Regions from separate parts of the Homo sapiens genome. Here all the other regions are linked to region 2. The links come from fine-mapping of genetic effects on gene expression. A gene starts in region 2. Each other region holds a variant in brackets. All regions are shown on one strand. Distances are from middle to middle.

What was found.
Region 1: its variant is fine-mapped to the expression of TMEM245 in whole blood (Lepik 2017, PIP 0.93).
Region 3: its variant is fine-mapped to the expression of TMEM245 in blood mononuclear cells (TOPMed, PIP above 0.99).
Region 4: its variant is fine-mapped to the expression of TMEM245 in whole blood (Lepik 2017, PIP 0.95). The same link has a PIP of 0.9 or more in NK cells.

What each region holds. Positions count from the first base shown.
Region 1 is chr9:108,877,269-108,879,768 of GRCh38, reverse strand. It overlaps ELP1 (elongator acetyltransferase complex subunit 1), which reads left to right. Exons shown (of 37, transcript NM_003640.5): 33 at 212-323; 34 at 1,019-1,146; 35 at 1,620-1,774. Among named protein-coding and RNA genes, the nearest start is that of ACTL7A, 16 kb to the right of the region's middle. The variant G/A (reference allele first, on the strand shown) is at 1,382.
Region 2 is chr9:109,118,256-109,121,018 of GRCh38, reverse strand. It overlaps TMEM245 (transmembrane protein 245), which reads left to right and starts at 1,072. Exons shown (of 18, transcript NM_032012.4): 1 at 1,072-1,684. The coding sequence starts at 1,106. RefSeq lists silencers at 923-972, 1,113-1,282, 1,633-1,742 and an enhancer at 1,393-1,442.
Region 3 is chr9:108,883,458-108,885,957 of GRCh38, reverse strand. All of the region lies in intron 29 of ELP1 (elongator acetyltransferase complex subunit 1), which reads left to right. Among named protein-coding and RNA genes, the nearest start is that of ACTL7A, 22 kb to the right of the region's middle. The variant T/C (reference allele first, on the strand shown) is at 1,255.
Region 4 is chr9:108,894,071-108,896,570 of GRCh38, reverse strand. It overlaps ELP1 (elongator acetyltransferase complex subunit 1), which reads left to right. Exons shown (of 37, transcript NM_003640.5): 25 at 1-75. Among named protein-coding and RNA genes, the nearest start is that of ACTL7A, 33 kb to the right of the region's middle. The variant C/T (reference allele first, on the strand shown) is at 1,465.

The DNA.
Region 1 (2,500 bases), 240 kb after region 2:
TTTCCAGAAAAAAGTTCAGGAAACTACTGATTTACATTAGTAATTACTGTATTTAATATTATCTCATTCATTTTGAGATCAACTTTGCAATCATTTTCATCCATCCTTTGATATGCACCAGTTGACTCTAGTTAGTTCATTTACCGCCCTGAAAGTAAACCCACACATTAGCAGGCAGTGTTTTCATCGGCTTCTGGTTCTTCTTTTCTAGATGATGAGGTACCCCACGGGCAAGAGTCAGACCTCTTCTCTGAAACTAGCAGTGTCGTGAGTGGCAGTGAGATGAGTGGCAAATACTCCCATAGTAACTCCAGGATATCAGCGTACGTATCACATTGATTCAGCACATTGACTATATCCTGGGCATATAGGGAAAGTGGAAGCAAATAGATTGGTTTTCTACTGGGACGGTGTAGTGGGAGTGGGGAGAATATTCTTCAGCGCTGTGTGGAAGTTGTTCAGACACTTTCCCAGCATATCTGAGACATTAAACTTGGCATTGGAAGGTTTTCTTCCTCAGCCTTGTGGCTTGTGTGTTTTCCCATTCCCCACGAGGCAGTTCCTCCCCTGAATGCTCAGTTTATATTAACATCTGATTTTATTTTTTGAACAAATGTTGTGACTAAATTATAGGCACTGAAAAAATGAAAAGATAAGCTTCTTCAATTCAAAATCAGGATTGGAAGAGACCATAAATGTAAAATAAGTCATAACACTTTTACCAAATATAGTAATTTGTCAGAAATATTTATTCAGCACTCATATGGTAGGTGCAGTAGATGTTACCAAAAACTTATAAGGAGATATGAGTTATAAGAGTTTATAGTCTTGCTTGGGATGTGTAAAGCAATGCAAGATTATATATTCAAACTGAATTTTGCTTTAGGAATTTAAAATGGAGATCTGTGAAGTTGTGTGGGGTCATCAGCAACTGCAAGAAAGTAGCCAGGCAAGGTAGCACATGCCTGTAGTCCTAGCTACTCAGGAGGCTTAAAAATATCTGTGTAATTTCTAACAGGAGATCATCCAAGAATCGCCGAAAAGCGGAGCGGAAGAAGCACAGCCTCAAAGAAGGCAGTCCGCTGGAGGACCTGGCCCTCCTGGAGGCACTGAGTGAAGTGGTGCAGAACACTGAAAACCTGAAAGGTATATTCTCAGTCCTGATGATGATTCCTGACCACAAACAATAGTGAATAGGCAGTACAGACAGGCAGAGTTCAGTAGGTGATTAAGCTACCATTTTCCCAATTTGAGGAAAGATGAGAACTTTTAGCAGGAAGGGTCATGTCTGCACACATTCCTGAAGCAGCCCTTCTTAGCTGGTAACTGAGAAGCCTTCCTCCATTTGGCATCCCCCTAACTGAACTGGGAGAGATGCTTA[G/A]GCCAGGATAAAGAATTGTGGGACACTGCTTTCTGCGTAGGCCCCCCAGCGTGCTTGATTTTCTTTTTGTAGTACATGTGTTTAATTATTCCAGCATTTGGGAAGAAAAAAGATAATGTGGGAGAAAGGACCTGCAGTGGGATCATAGAAATTTTTGGCTTTGGATAGAAGCTATGTATGATTCTGTCAATGGAGCTGGGAATATAACTTACCACTCTTTCAAATTTCTTCTCTCTAGATGAAGTATACCATATTTTAAAGGTACTCTTTCTCTTTGAGTTTGATGAACAAGGAAGGGAATTACAGAAGGCCTTTGAAGATACGCTGCAGTTGATGGAAAGGTCACTTCCAGAAATTTGGACTCTTACTTACCAGCAGAATTCAGCTACCCCGGTAAGTTTTCTCAGAGACGGTGTGCATTTTTTTCATCATTTTCATGGGTTATTGTATTCACACAATCTCCAAGTCAAAAAGTTTTCCTGTTCTTAAAACATAAGATGCCATAGTTAAATTATCTTAGATTTATGTGTAAGCTGTCAGTAAGATTTGATATTTGCCTGTAGAGTGACTAGTATACCTTGGCATAGGTTAAATGGACTGTCATTTTCCTTTCTGGATGAAGTAGCTGTCATGGAGAAAATGGGAAAGTCACATGATTGCTCCTGGCCTTCAATGAGGTTGGAGTGGGGAGAGATGGGGGAAGATGGGGTCAGAGACGGCCTCTCACTTTCCTTTCAGAACTCAGGGATGGGATCAGGCTTTAAAGGGACCCCAGGCAATTGCTTTTCCTTTTGTTTTATGAAAAATTTGACTTGTCACTTCTATGTTGTTATGATGGACTTTGCGGGTTGTGTTTAAGGCTGAATCAGCTTTGTATCGCAGAATTCTAGTATATTGTCATCTGTTTATTATTTATACCTCTGTTCACTCTCTTATACTTCAAGTCTATTGTTAAGAGTTTTTATTTGGATTCAAAAAGGCTGGTGTATCAGTCAAGATCTAGAAAGGAAAACAAAAGCCTATCTATTATTTTATCACAGAATTTAATATATGGATTTGTTAAATAAGTATTAGAGGACTAAACAAGGCAAAAGGGAAATACAGAGGAAGGACATTGAG
Region 2 (2,763 bases):
GCAATCACATGTTGAGTACTCAGTCAAGGCTTTCTTTTTTTTTTTAAATCAAAATGTTGATTGGGATATTTTATGGGTAGCAGGCTTGGATCCCAGCACTTTTCCAATAGGGGAACAGAAGCACCTTGTACCGCCCCAGAGTTTCCCTTCCCCCACACAATAACCCTAAAGCAAAAGCTATTATTATTATCATCGCCATGTGACAGAGGAAAACTTGAGATTGGGGGCTTAACTGACATTACATCAAGTCTCAAAAAGAAACAGTGGCAGTTTGAGACTTTGATCTACGACTCTTTTAAGAGTTTAGATTGCGTCCACAGCGAAACCTGCACAAACAGTTGTCAACAGCGGCTGCAAATTACAGGCTTATGAGGAACGTTTGAAAAATGCCAAGAGTTCTTTCCTCAGGCCAAATACTATGGTAGATAAAAGTATAGCCTTTGGAGCCAGAATCCCTGAGTTTGAATCTTGCCTGTGCCACTTGGTAGCTGTGTGACTCTGGCTGCGTACTTAACGGCTCTGTCTCAGTTTTTCTGTTGGTAAAATGAGGATAATAACACCTTCTTTGTAGGGTTGTTCTAAGGATTAAATGAGTTAATAGGAGTGAGCCACTTAGAATAGGGCCTGTTATATGGTAATCTCTATTTAAAATCCTGTCAGATACACCAAAGAAAACACTTTAAAAATATCTGTTAAATAAATCAGTAAAACAGAATCGGGGCATTGGTTCTTTAAAAGTACTCCCCCACGGTATTCTAGTATGCAGCTTGGGTTTTAATATCTGAATGTGGCGCCTTTTGGGATCTCGCCTCGCGAGAAATTGACATTAACGAATGAGTGAAAGGAGCTTCCCCCCCCCCCCCCCTCCAGGAAGATATAGACCCTGCAAACTTGTTAGCAGGACCTTGCGGACACCAAGGAGGCGGAGGCGTTTTCCCCATTTCCCCTTCGGGAGTTGTAGTTTCCTGCAAGCGCTTGGTGGGTCTGTAAACCAGCGGGGAACTACAACTCCCACAATCTCGCGCGCCTCCCGCCCTGCCTCCCGCCCGCGTTTCTAGCCCGACTCCCATTACCGCCCCTCGGGGGCGGCTGTGGCGGAGGAACGATGGCCGACGGCGGCGGCCCTAAGGACGCGCCAAGCCTGCGGAGCTCTCCCGGGCCGGCGCCGCGGGTCCCGCGCGCGGTCGGGCCGAGTGGCGGTGGCGGGGAGACCCCGCGGACCGCGGCGCTGGCGCTGCGCTTCGACAAGCCCATTAAGCAGGCCTTCTACAACACCGGGGCCGTGCTGTTCGTGTGCCTGTGCTGCGGCGCCGCGGTGCTGGTCTACTTCATCCTGGAGGCCTTCCTGCGGCCGCTGCTCTGGGCCGTGCTATGCGGCACTTTTCTGCACCCCTTCAAGAGCTCGCTGACGCGCCTGGGCCGCCACTGGCTGCAGCGCCTGCACCGCGCGCACACGCCCATCGTCCTGGCCGCGCTGCTCCTGCCGCTCTGCTTCGTCGACTACGGCGTCGAGGCCCTGGGCGAGCAGGCGCTGCGCCGCCGCCGCCTGCTCCTGCTGCTCGGCGCCGGCGGCCCGCTCCTGTACGGCCTCTACTGCCTCGGCAGCTACTTGGGCGTGCAGGTGCTGCTGGTGCACGCTGCCACGCTCATCTGCCGCGGGCTGGACTACTTCAGCAGCCTGTGGGTGAGTGAGCGGCAGTCCGCCCCCGTCCCCCGCCCGTGGTCCCGGCGCTCTGGGGTGCAATCCTGCAGCTGTTCCTCCCGGTGCAGGGGCGACGAGGGGCCACACCTGTGCTGCAGTGACCGTCCGTCTCCGCTTTCCTTCTCACACCTCAGGAATTTGGCGGACATTCTTCCAAAAAGGGGGCGGGCGTGATTTGAAACAGCCTCCCTGCTTTTCGCCTTGTTTCAATCCTAATAGGCCCTCTTAGGGGGACAGTGCCCTGGATTGAGAATCGTTATTTCGCTTTGCAGAGAGAGGCCTCAGAGCATGGCAGTGGGGCTTGGTTTTACTTCTGGTTGGAGAGGGCGGGGGTGCTTCGGCCACCCTCAGTTCTGCGCATCTGAATGTCAGAGCTGGAAGGGACCTTAGAGATTCTAGGCCAACTTGCCATCCTGCAGATAGGAAAGGTGACCTCTTACCAGGCTAGGGCTACTTAGGGACAAAGAGGGGTTTGGGTGTCTTAGATTTCTTACAAGTCCTAAAACAAAGCTTGCTTCACTGGCTGGTGCTGCCTCTCAGTTCAGGTGATTCCTGTATAATTTGTGCAAGGCACTGGGTGCTGAGCTGCCTGTGCTTCTTCCTCTCCACGCTTTACTTTTAGGTAACTGCTTTTGTTGTGCAGGGACTGGTGTACCACAGCACACCTCCTCCCGCCTGGAGTAAAGCAGCTGACCGCGTGAAGGGGAGAGACGTAGATTTGTGATGCTTGGATTAACCTGAGCTTACTCTTACAAAACCAGGGAGCTTTAGAATTGGAAAGATTTCAAAGGTAATCTAGTGACACAATTCCTAACTCAGACTATATTGTGGACTAGTTAATTATCCACATATTTAACTGGAGACTGTTAAAAACAAGTGGAGATTTAGTGCGTAAGAATGCCAATTGATTCATAAACAGTACCATTTACAAATTGATTCACTTCTTTTGTCAGTGAAATAAAGTTCAGTGTACCTTGACGTCATTAAGTTGGAAAATATTAATTCCCCTTATCTGTCTAGCGGTGTTTTGGCTTGCCTGAGGTTATTGGCAGAGTGATGAA
Region 3 (2,500 bases), 230 kb after region 2:
CAAGAAGGAGTGGAAAAACCTTGACATTTTTTTCCACTGTGACTCACTACCCAGTACTTTTCCACCCTTAGCCCCCTTCCTTTGCACCCATACCCCCAAGATCCATCAAACTGCTAAAGCCTTTTTTTCCAAGCTCCTTCAACAGTGAACCAACCCTCATGTCTGTGTGGATCCAGCTGACTCTTGACTAGTGAGTTGTTCCTTGGGAAAAAATGGAACAGAGAGAGTTGGTGCTTTCCCTGGTTTTAGCCTCTTGCTTATACCAATGCAATGCCTGAAGGCTTAATTCATTTTTGACTTGTTGCTTTGATCAGCTACTCCAACACCTGACAGCTCAGCTCTTTCTCCCAGCTCTTGGGAGATATTTTTTTCTTTAAATGTTTAGTAGAATATACCAGTAAGGCCATCTCGGCCAGGAGTTTTCTTTAATGAAAGCTTTTCCACTATTAGTTCAGTTACTTTAGTAGACATTAGCCTATTCAAGTTTATCTGTGTCTTCTGGAATGAGCATTGGTAGTTTATGTCTTTCAAGTAATTTGTTCATTTCATCTAAATTGTCAGATTTATTGGTATGAAGTGTTTATAGTATTCTCTTATTTTACTGTCCGTAGGGTCTATGGTGATGTCCTGTCTTTCATTCTAGATATTGATGTGTCTTCTTTTTTCTGATTATTCTGGCCAGAGGTTTATCAATTTTATTGATCTTATTAAAGAATGAACTGTTTCATTGTTTTTCTCTATGATTTTTCTGTATTCTATATCATTCTTTTTTTATTATTTTATTATTTTATTTGCTCTTTATTTTTCTAGTTTCTTAAGGTGATGGCTTACTTTTATTTTTTTCTTATTTTTTTCTTTTGTTGTTGTTGTTTTTTTAAAGAAACAGGGTCCCACTCTTGCTCAGGCTGGAGTGCAGTGGCACGATCATGGTTCACTGCAGTCTCAAACTCCTACATTCAAGCTGTCCTCCCCCCTCAGCCTCCAGAGTAGTTGGGATTACAGGTGCATGCCACCATGCCTGGCTAATTTTTAATTTTTTTTGTAGAGATGGGGTGTTACTAGTTGCCCACGCTGGTCTGAAACTCCTGGCCTCAAGTGATCCCTCCACCTCTGCCTCCCAAAGTGCTGGGATTCCATGTGTAAGCCACTGTGCCTGACCAAGGTGATGGCTTAAAGCTATTGATTTGAGATGATTCCTTACTTTATAGTTTAAGCATATAATGCCATAATTTTCCTCAAGCACCGTTTTAGTTA[T/C]GTTATACAAATTTTGAAATGTTTTGTTTTCATTTCCTAATTTCCCTTGTGATTTCTTTATTGAACCTTGGCTTATTTAGAAGTATGTTTAACTTGCAGATATTGGAGATTTGCCAGCCATCTTTTTGTTATTAATTTCTACTTTAATTTTGTTGTGATTAGAGAACATACATTTTATTAATTTAAATTTATAATTTATTTTAATTTATAATATGGTCTGTTTTACAGAATGTTGTGTGTGTATTTGAAAATAATATGAAAGCTACTATTATTGGATGGAGTGTTCTATAAATGTCAGTTAGATTAGGTTGATCATGCTGTTCTAGCTTTTTATATCCTTATTGATTTCCTCACTACTTGCTCTATCAATGACTGGGAAAGTGTTGAAGTCTCCCAGTATTTGTCTATTTCTCCTTTGATTCTACCAGTGTTTGCTTAATGTATTTTGAAGCTCTGTTATAGGTGCATACATGTTTATGAGTATGTTATAGATGTATTCATTTTGATATCCTTCTTTCTCTGTTACTATTCCTAATTCTGAATTTGACTTTAATGTTATTAATATAATTCTTCCAGCTTTCTCTTGGTTAGTCTTTTCATTGCATATCTTTTTCTATCCTTTTACTTTTAATCTAGCTGAATGTAGTCTTTATTTTGAAAGTGCGTTCCTTGTTGATAGCATTATTGGTTCTTTTTTTTTTTTAAATCTAATTTGACAATCTCTGTCTTTTAATTGGAGGGTTTAGACATTTGCATTGAATGTGATTACCAATATAGTTAGATTTAAACCTACAGTCTTGCTGTTTGCTTTTTGTTTGTTTCATTGATCCTTTGTTTCTTGTTTTTTTCTTTTTTTGCTTTCCTTTGGATTTAGTATTTTTCATAATTCCATTTTACCTCCACTGTTGGCTTATTAGCTATACTTCTTCATTTCAGTATTTTAGTGGTTGCTGTAGGATTTATAATAAATATCATTAACTGACCATATCTTCAGATAATCGTATACTACTTCATATATAGTGTAAAAACCTTACAAGAGTATTCACTCCATAATACTTTGTTATTGCTTTTGCTTTAAGTGATCAATGATTGTTTAAGGAAATTTTTTAATGACCTTTCATGTTTATTCTTTTTTTTTTTTTCCAAAAGATTCAGTATTTTCCGAGTTTTCAAAAACTGCTGGCCACTCAAAGTGGATCAACAAAAATTTAAGAGCTAAAACTGTAAAACTCTTGAAGGCTGGGCA
Region 4 (2,500 bases), 220 kb after region 2:
AATGAATTATATGATCATTCTCTTGGCACCTATGACTTTGATTTGGTCCTCATGGTAGCTGAGAAGTCACAGAAGGTATGTGGAGTTCTTACTTTTATGCCATTTGGTTCTTGTTTATATAATGATAGTGTGAAACCCTGCTTCTGGTAGTGCAGTAGCTTTTCTGCTATCACTCTGTGAGTGCAGGGCTGGAGACAGATCTGTGAGTTTCTAGGGCCCACATTCCTAAGCCCCTGTGCTTATGAAAGTGTTTTGATTGTGAGGTTGAAGAAGTGAAGTAAAATTGCATGGCTTTTTTTTGTTTCTTTTTTTTTGAGACGGAGTCTCACTCAGTCGCCCAGGCTGGAGTGCAGTGGTGCGATCTCGGCTTACTGCAAGTTCCACCTCCCGTGTTCACGCCATTCTCCTGCCTCAGCCTCTCTAGTAGCTGGGACTACAGGTGCCCATCACCACGCCCGGCTAATTTTTTGTATTTTTAGTAGAGACAGGGTTTCACTGTGTTAGCCAGGATGGTCTCCATCTCCTGACCTCGTGATCCGCCTACCTCAGTCTCCCAAAGTGCTGGAATTACAGGTGTGGGCCACCATGTGCGGCCTAAAATTACATGGTTATTTTTAAGATGATGGGCATATGTGTGAGCTAATTTCTTCTCTTATAAAGGAAATGTAACAAGTGGTTCATGTTCCACTCCGGTTCTTTCTCACATGGCTCTTTTTTCTAGTGGAGGGTGGGCACATGGAGCACAGAAGGCTCATGGCCTCCTTTCCTATGTTGGTACATTTGCTATGATCAAAAACTTTGAACACCACTGGTATGCATATTTTTTATTTATTTTTTTGCAGCCTCAGTCTCTTCCCCATGACCTCTCCAAAAATGAAAATCGGATCCTTCATCTCTCTGCTTAAAATACTTCATGAGCTCCCATTGTTCCGAGGATATAATTCAGAAGCCATAATACTGCTTAAAAACCCTTCCTTGACCTGGCCTCTGTGTATCTTTCCATTCTCACTTCTTGGTATTGTCTTTTTTTCCTCTGCCCATGGAGGAAAGACAATGCTTTTGTCCCCCTTCCCTTGCCCCTCACCACCACATGCCTTGGTGGGCAGCATTACTTCTGCCATCCATGGGCTTTGACTGCTTCCACCCTCACCATTCCCCTGGCTAATTCTCACTAATCTAGGTTAAAGGATGCCAAGGTGGCCTCTTCCCAGTAAGCCATTCATGCTTCCCTCCAGGGACTGGGTGAGGTGACCCTCCTATATGCTTCTGTTGCACACAGTGCCTACCCCTGCAGACTACAGTGTGTCTTTATCTAGAGTGCGGTATTTATTTATTTATTTTTGAGACAAGGTCGGGCTCTATCACCCGGGCTGGAGTGCAGTGGCACCATCTTGGCTCACTGCAACCTACGCCTCCTAGGCTCAAGCAATCTCACCTCAGCTTACAGGCGTGCACCACCATGCC[C/T]GGCTAAGTTTTGAATTTTTTTTGTTGAGACGGGGTTTCGCCATGTTGCCCAGGCTGGTCTCAAACTTGTGAGCTGAAGCAATCCATCTGCCTCGGCCTCCCAGAGTGCTGGGAATGAGCACTTAATTATTTGTTGTCTTGGGTTTTCTTCCTATGTTGTTCTTACATGTATTTATCCTGTCAGCCCAGGGAAATTGCATTAAAAACAGGAAACACCTCTCCATTAGGAAGAAAAACAATTTGCTTACAGGGCATGGCATAGAGCTGGAGATGATAGTGCCAATAAATACTAGGTTGGCAGGGTCTCAGAGTTTTGTGTCCAACTCAGTATAATTTTATGTTTGTTTTAATGTGATCATTTCAGGAGAGCATGGAATGTCATGAAAACAGCACCAAGAGCAATGTCTTAGACTTTTAGGAGAAACTTAGATGCATTTGTTGAATATCTTCTAGACTGAAACCTTATTTCCCTTATTAGCCTATGAAATAAATGATACTGTGAGACTTAGTTAAGGAAGTTACTATTATTCCAAGTGTAACTTATTAATATCCGTATGTGAAAGCATTTTTGCCAAAGCTTGTTTGATGTTCAGCTGACCCTTGCACAACGTGAGTTTCAACTGTGCGAGTTTGAACTGTGTGGGTTTATCTAAATGTGGATCTCTCTCAAACACAGTTGGCCCTTTGTGTCCACGGCTTCTGCATCCACAATCAGTGTGGATCAAAAGTACAATATTTGCAGGATTTGAAACTTGCAGATACAGAGGGCCAACATTTTGTGTATCCAGGCTCCATGGGGTCAAATGTAGGACTGGGGTATGCTTGGATTTTGGTATCCTTGGGGTGTCCTGGAACCAATTCCCCATAGATACTGGGGGACAACTGTAGTTTGATTTTATATATTATATAATATGCAGTTAATATATAATACACATTTAAAAATTATGTAGCTTTGGGTTTATTGCTATATGTAAATGCTAGTTTCTATTCCTATATATGAATATCACAAGTAATAAAGTTCTCATTAATCATTTTT